2 linked regions of the Homo sapiens genome follow. The protein of the gene in region 1 interacts with the protein of each later gene in a biochemical or structural test. Each region holds a gene or a part of one and is shown on either strand. Other genes may lie near its edges.

Region 1 (3,500 bases):
GCTGAGGGTAGATACCTGTAAAATCATAGAGTATCTCTTCAAGGTTAAATAAGCTATGAATAACATCAGTTACTTTCTTGGGAGTAGGATTGGATAGCTGGGAACAAGGGTGGTAGATAAGCTTAGTTATCACTGCATAGCCTTTTGTGCCTTTTTGAATTTAGTCCTATGTCCATGAATTACCTTTTCAAAAATAATTTTGGAAAAAGTCCATAGGAGTGAAAGAGGTCTAGGGAGATACTAGAGAGAGAAGAGCAGAGCCCAGGACTGAGCTCTGAGTACCTCTCAACCTTTAGAAAGTAGATAGGATTGGAGGATCTAGCATAGAAGAAGGTGTCTTTACTTGATTCCTCAAAAGTCAAGTAAAAAAGAGGAAAGAGATGATCAGAGAGCATAGAGGCAGTTGGACATGATAAAGGAAGCAGCTTTAGTCAGGTCATGTTGCCATAACCATAATGGGGTGGGTTGAAGATTAAATGAGAGCTGAGGAAATGGAATATAGACATTTGAAGAAGCTTGATTATGAGAGGGGACAGAGAATGGGGGCAGAAGCTGGAGAGATATTGGGGTTAAGGGAGGTTTTTGTTTTTGTTTTAGAATTGGAGATAGTAAAGCATATTTGTATGCTGGGGGCAATTCCTCTCCACTGGAGAGGAAAATAAGGATACAGGAGAGGGAAAGAGGAGATGATCCAGTACAAAAACCTGAGGAATAAAATTATAATCTATGTGAATGAATGAATGAGATGTCCCTGAAAATTAAGACAGAGGATAAGATTCAGAGGAGTAGTCAAACATTACTTTTAGTAAGAAAGAAATGAGAAACGTTGGATTGTTTTGCATTTTTGCAAGTCTTATTAATGTCTGGCTTATAGAAGGCACATGGGCTCTTTTGCCTGCTTCTGTATCCAGTCTCTTTCAATAGCACATGTTCTATACCCTTTGGAAGATTCCACTGTAAACTTATGAGAGAAGAAGAAGAGTACCTCTTAGAATACATCTTAGTATTGTTAGGAAGATAGTTTGACCTTAGGGAGCCTCTGCCTTGGACCATATTTTGAGACTCTCTGCTCTAGCCTAAAGCATATTAGGAAGCTGTATTAGACTGCCTTTTTTTTTTTTTTAAATCTTGAATCAGCATCTTGCCCTGGAGTGCAGTGGCGTGATCATGGCTCACTGCATCTTCAACCTCCTACACTTAAGCAATCCTCCCACCTTAGCTACCCAAGTAGCTGGGACTACAGGTGCATGCCACCACACCTGGTTAAATTTTTAAATTTTTTGTAGAGACAGTCTCACTATGTTGCCCAGGTTGGTTTCAAATTCCTGAGCTCAAGCAATCCTCCTGCCTTGGCCTCCTAAAGTGCTAGGAGTACAGCATGAGCCACTGCATCCAGCGTAGACTGCTTTGTATATTTAAATTATGTGTCGTACTTAGAAGATGAGGTGATTAAATCCTTGATAAAAATCATGATTAAGGTTTTTGGTGTGATTATATCTTGAGTTGCCTTTGAATAATAGAAGCTTAGTAGGAGAAAGAAGTTTGTTTACTATATTTGAGTTAATCTCTTTAGCTCAAGCTAAAATAGTATATCAAATATTCCTCTGAGTAATTTAAGTGTAGATGACCTCAGTCCACATTCTTACCCTTGCTTTTTAGGCAATAATGTACCAGACCCTGTTTTAAAGTTACCTAGGAAATATCTTAAAACCGTCTTCTGTACTTTTTTCACTTACTGAATGATAAATACGTATTTTCTAGTATGTGCTTTTGGATGCCTTTAAAAGTTGATAATATCTGAAAAAGATGAATGGGCAATATTTTCCAATGGAAAAAGTAAGGCTTTGGAATCAGGAAGATGTATGTTTGAATCTCAGCTGGCAAATAGGAAGAATAACTATTTCTGGGACAAATGTGAAATTTGAATGTGGTTATAAATTAAAAGTGACTAGCTTAATGTCTGGAACATAATAGACATTCAGTAAGTTTAAATTTCCCTTTCTCTTTTCCACCACAATTTAGAAAGGCTTTAACAAATTTACAAGATGCTGCTTGAGGTCCAGCTACCTGGGAGGCTGAGGCGGGAGGATCTCTTGAGTTCAGGAGTTCAAGGCCAGCCCAGGCAACATAGCAAAGACCCTGTGTTTAAAAAAAAATTAGAACCTTTGTCACTCCATTAAGGGCAGAGGGCATGGGATAAAAGTTACTATAGATATATAAAGGGGCAATAGGAGTTTAAATATTGATAATTTTTCATGTTTTAATTAGTTCAGATATGTTATTTGTATCCTTGTATATTAAGACTTAATGTAATTAACAGTGTATTATCAGTATTGATGACAGTTTTTAACATGACTACCTCCTTTCATAATAAATGTACTCTTAGTTATGGATGTATCCTTATATTGAAAGAATTAATAATATACTTTACATTTACGTGTTTACCCAGAATTTTCACATAATTTCAATTAATCATTATAATTTGTAGGTTAAGTAACATTCAAAGGAGTTTTCCTTTAATTTTTTAATATTTCTCTTTTTTTTTCCCCCAGACAGTTCAGTTTGTTCAGGGAATTTTTGTTGAAAAATATGACCCAACGATAGAAGATTCCTACAGAAAGGTAAAATGTGAAACTTGTACACACATGCTTACAAGTAGTTCCTTATGATGTTAAAATTTGATCTGTAGATTTGCTTTTTGAAAATAGTTTTGAGAAATAATACAAATATTGTGCATCTGTTTTTAAAAGTTTCATCAAGACAGAACATTTCTTAACAGAATACTACTTTGATATTCAGAGCTCTATGTTCTGTTACTGATTAGTGACTTGTTCCTTAATGTGGACATTTTCCTGGTGGGGAATGTTGCCACATATGAAAAAATTGCATATAAATAGTAGGTGTGTTTTCAACTTACTCTTTTGTTACCAACAATTAAGACCACCTTTATGCTTGAAGTTATCCAGTGACTGAACATTTTTATTTTTGTTTAGTTTTATAAGTTTAAAGATATCTTTAGACTACCAAAAAATTAGAGTCTGTGTAATACTATAATTGGGTTATATGCCATACATTTGTCAAAACCCATAGAATGTACCATGCCAAAAGAAAATCCTAATGTAAACTGTGGACTCTTGGTGATAACGATGTGTTCATGTGGGTTCATCAGTTGTAACAAATGTACCACTCTGGTGCAGGATGTTGATGGTGGGGTGAGGCTATGCATTTGTGGTGGCAAGGAGTATGTGGGAAATCTCTGCACCTTCCCCTCAGTTTTGCTGTGAAACTAAAACTGCTCTAATAAAGTCTATTTAAAAGGGAAAAAAAATTAGGTACTTGGTCTTGACAAAAAATATTCTGTAGAAGACCAGCCAGAGTTGTGGAAAATTTTCAGTATTTTCTATGTCAAATATATTGGGTGGGGTGGAGGTTATAAAAGGCTAGTAGCCAAGAATATTTTTTAAAAAGATTAAACTTTAATAGGAAAGGATTGCTTTTGA
Region 2 (4,035 bases), about 88 Mb from region 1:
TGCAGCGAGCTGAGATCGCGCCATTGCACTCCAGCCTGGGCAACAAGAGCGAAACTCCGTCTCAAAAAAAAAAAAACAAAAAAAACACACACACACAGTTGGCCGGGCGCAGTGGCTCACGCTTGTAATCACAGCACTTTGGGAGGCCAAGAGGGGCGGATCATCTGAGGTCAAGAGTTCGAGACCAGCCTGGCCAACATGATGAAACCCCATCTCTACTAAAAATAAAAAAATTAGTTGGTCATGGTGGTGGTGCCTGTAATCCCAGCTACTCGGGAGGCTGAGACAGGAGAATCTCTTGAACCCAGGAGGCGGAGGTTGCAGTGAGCCGAGATGGCACCATTGCACTCCAGCCTGGACAACAAGAGCAAAACTCCATCTCCAAAAAAAAAAAAAAAAAAAAAAAGGATCCTCGTCCTGTGTTACATTTTCACTGTGAAAGCTACCAAGAACATTTTGATGGCAGGTGACATTAAAAATATTTTTTGCTTTTTTGGGTTGAAGGATTGTACAGGGGACAACTGAGATGCCTCAACATGTACCTTGCAAATGTTTGATATTTCTCAGTTGCCTGTTACCAGTTCTTACAAGCTCTATAGTTGGTATCTTGTTTGATAACAGCAAGTTTCGATCCACCTGAGGATGCCCAATGTGCCTTTGCCTTGTTATTGCTTTGTTCTTTCTTGAAATTTACTGAAAATAGAGGGGTTGTGAAGTCCTTTTTTCTCTTGTGTTAGACTAAATGAGTCTGAAAATCTTGAGGGTTTTAGTTTTGTCTGCTTTTAAATCACCCCTAATAACCCAAAGTAAAGCAGAAAGACAGGATTTGTTCTTCCAGTTAGTGCTAGGCTTTGAGATAAACACACCCACAGTGACTTCCAGCCTCATCCTTATATGTTGGCTTTGTAGAGGTCCTGGGACACCTTTGTTCCCTTGGTGACCTCCTTTACTATGTGGGTTCTGAACTGTCTAATGACATCACAGGAGGAGTTTTTCTGCTTTCTTGCAAGTATGCTAAGAAGTATATGTGCTGCCGCTCTATTTTCATTTCCTAAGGACAGTGTTCTGATGTTGGATGCTTCTCCTGGCTTTACTTAACTGTAGTAGACACATTTGACTTTCCAGCTTGTTAAGCAAGTTACCTAACCTGATTGGGTTCAGTTGCAATATCTGTCAAATGGGGAGAATAACATCCACTTTATAGAGTTGGTTAGTGGGAATGAAATGAGGTAACGTGTAAGAGCTTAGTGTAGTAGCTGACACACAATAGATGGTATGTGAATATTCCCAACCTACCCCTTCCAAGGAATGGCATTATGAGAGAACCACTTGTTTTTGACCTTTTCAGTGATTTAAAATTTTCCTTTAAGTGAAGGAATTGGCATTAGTCTTTGCACCCATAGCTTGGGTGGCAAGAAACACAAAATTTTTCCTGAGTTGGATGATGGTGGTGATAGGATTTGAAGTGGGGGATAATTTTCACTCATCTATGAAGGTGAGACTCCCTAGATATGCCACTTGGCCTCTTACTTGATCTCAAGATTATCACTTGTGATCCAATTGCTCTGTCTGGTGACCATGTTAAGTAATGATTGAAGTAGAATGACCAGAAAAACAGACTTGTTACTCCACCTAATAGCAATATGGCATACCAATTATAGTCTGGGCCACACATGGTAAAAGCAGATCTTGTTATATAATATTTAAATGCAAAGGTAACCACAGTTATCTATTTTAAACTACTTGTATTTTGAAGCACTCCTTGTATGGTAAGTATGTTTAGATACACGTAGACATTTCCTAGAGAAAGGTTTGGCCAGTCATAACTTTTGTTAGAGCAAGTAGGAATTGGCTGAGGAATATCTGGTTGAAGATCAAGGGCAGAACGCTGAAAGCTGTCAGTCGATGAATGAAATGATAAGTATTTAGTGAGCTTTCATAGTGTTCTAGACACTATGACTAAGGACTGCACATGGTTTGTCTCTGAATCCTCATAGTTTGTGAAGTAGAGACAGGACCAAGTTCCTATTTTGCAGATGAAGTAACTGAAGTTTGGGGAGGTTTTTGACTTATTCAAGATCACTCATCGAGTGACAAAGCCAGATTGTCAAGCCTGTCTCTGACTCCAGAACTCCATCTTAACAGCTCTGCTGTACTGATTTTGACCTAGTTTTAGGAACTATAGGAAGGAAATGTGATCAAACCCAGATCACTTTTCTAATCTACCCAGGCATTTTGTGTCCACCGTTAACATCCAAGCTCTGATTCTGGCAACTTGAAATTACTCTTGGCTTTACACTTATGTAGAAGAAAACAATTCTGTTAAACACTGTGGCCCTTCTGGAAACATGATGGTCTTTTCCTGTAGAGGCCTTTTCTTCCTTTTACTTCCTCTGTGCCAGGTCCATGGGTAATTCCCCTAAAATTGGTACCTTTCTCATAAATTCTATCAAAACTAGGGCAAAAATGATAGTTGTTGATGGCTTTTATCAGAGTTGGTAAGTTTTGATTCTCTTCTCTACATCTTATTTCCCCTTGGTGTAGCACAGTGGTTGAAAGCAGGGAATCTAAAGCCACAGACCTGAGTGAATCTTGCCCCACTTGCATCTTGGGACAAGAAACATAACTTTTATGAGCCTATTTTCATACTTGTAAAATAGGGATATTACTTACTACTGTAAATAGGCATAATACTTATACTCATTACTGTAAATGGTTAGCACTAAGCACTTAATAATCAGATATTCTTGTTAAAGTGAATTTGACTATTGAAATTAATGTTTTCTTCTCTGCAGCTATTGAAATATTTGAAGAAACTCTCCACCCTGCCTATTACAGTAGACATTCTTGCGGTAAGAACTGTGTGACTTTAAATATTATATAATGATATCCCATTCCCTTCTCACTGGAGAGTGTGTAGAATAAGGTTACAAGTATGGGCTTTGGAAGTGAAAGAAACCAGACACAAAAGGCCATATATTGTCTGATTCCATTTATATGAAATGTCCAGAATAGGCAAATCCATAGACAGAAAGTAGATTAGTGGTTGCCAGGGGCTAGGAGAATTGGGAGGAACAGGATTTCTTTTTAGGGTAATGTAAATGTTCTGGAATTAGATGGTTATAATGGTTATATAATATTGTGAATGTTCTGGAAACCACTGAATTATGTACTTTAGTTAAAGTGGTGAATATTGTTAAATGACTTTATTTCAAAATTAGAATTAAAAGAACATTGACTTTGGCATCAATTAGTCCCAGATTCAAATCTGAGTTCTATGACTTTAGGCTGTTCCTATGTAAAATGGGTCTGATTCCTGCTTCACAGGGTTATTGTAAAGACTGATTCAGAACTGTATGCAAAGCTCTTATCTTAGTGCCTAACACCTGCCCTAATCACTCTTGTTATTAAAGTTCTGAACTTGGTACGCTTTGCTACTGTGTGTCATTAGAGATTTGGGGCATAGACACAAAGTAATTTAGTGTTAAGATTTGCAGGGTATGTTGTAGGAAGGAAGTATTGCTTGTTGAGTTTCTCAAAGTAGAAAGCCTTATTTCTTTAGAAAAACGTTAGCCTAGTTCCAGACCCCTCTAACAATTACTTTGTCAAATTTTAGGAGACTGGGGTTGGGAAAACAGTAAATAGCTTGCGAAAACACGAGCATGTTGGAAGCTTTGCCAGGGACCTAGTGGCCCAGTGGAAGAAGCTGGTTCCTGTGGAACGGTAAGAACATTTCTCTTTAGGTTTGTTCAATTTCATGGTTAAATTTACAGATAGAAAAGGTTTTCTTTATTATTTCTCTTTTGCCTTCTGAAATTGTTTTGCCTCAATTATAAAAAATAATCCATGATCATTGTAGAATATTAGAAAATATTAAAAATAGAAATCAAAATTTCCTATTTCTATCACGCAAAGACAAACGTTATGAACATTTTGGTACGTTTCTTTTTTTTTTTTTTTTTTTTTTTGAGACAGAGTCTCGCTCTGTTGCCCAGGCTGGAGTGCAGTGGCGTGATCTCGGCTCACTGCAAGCTC

What was found.
Region 2: the proteins of RAP1A (region 1) and ELOA form a complex in vitro, tested with the Homo sapiens proteins (one study listed by BioGRID).

The regions. Positions count from the first base shown.
Region 1 is NC_000001.11:111,692,789-111,696,288, forward strand, and holds part of RAP1A (ras-related protein Rap-1A precursor), read left to right. Parts: intron 1-2,552; coding exon 2,553-2,621; intron 2,622-3,500. UniProt on the Homo sapiens protein: Counteracts the mitogenic function of Ras, at least partly because it can interact with Ras GAPs and RAF in a competitive manner. Together with ITGB1BP1, regulates KRIT1 localization to microtubules and membranes.
Region 2 is NC_000001.11:23,746,226-23,750,260, forward strand, and holds part of ELOA (elongin-A), read left to right. Parts: intron 1-2,795; coding exon 2,796-2,852; intron 2,853-3,616; coding exon 3,617-3,723; intron 3,724-4,035. UniProt on the Homo sapiens protein: SIII, also known as elongin, is a general transcription elongation factor that increases the RNA polymerase II transcription elongation past template-encoded arresting sites.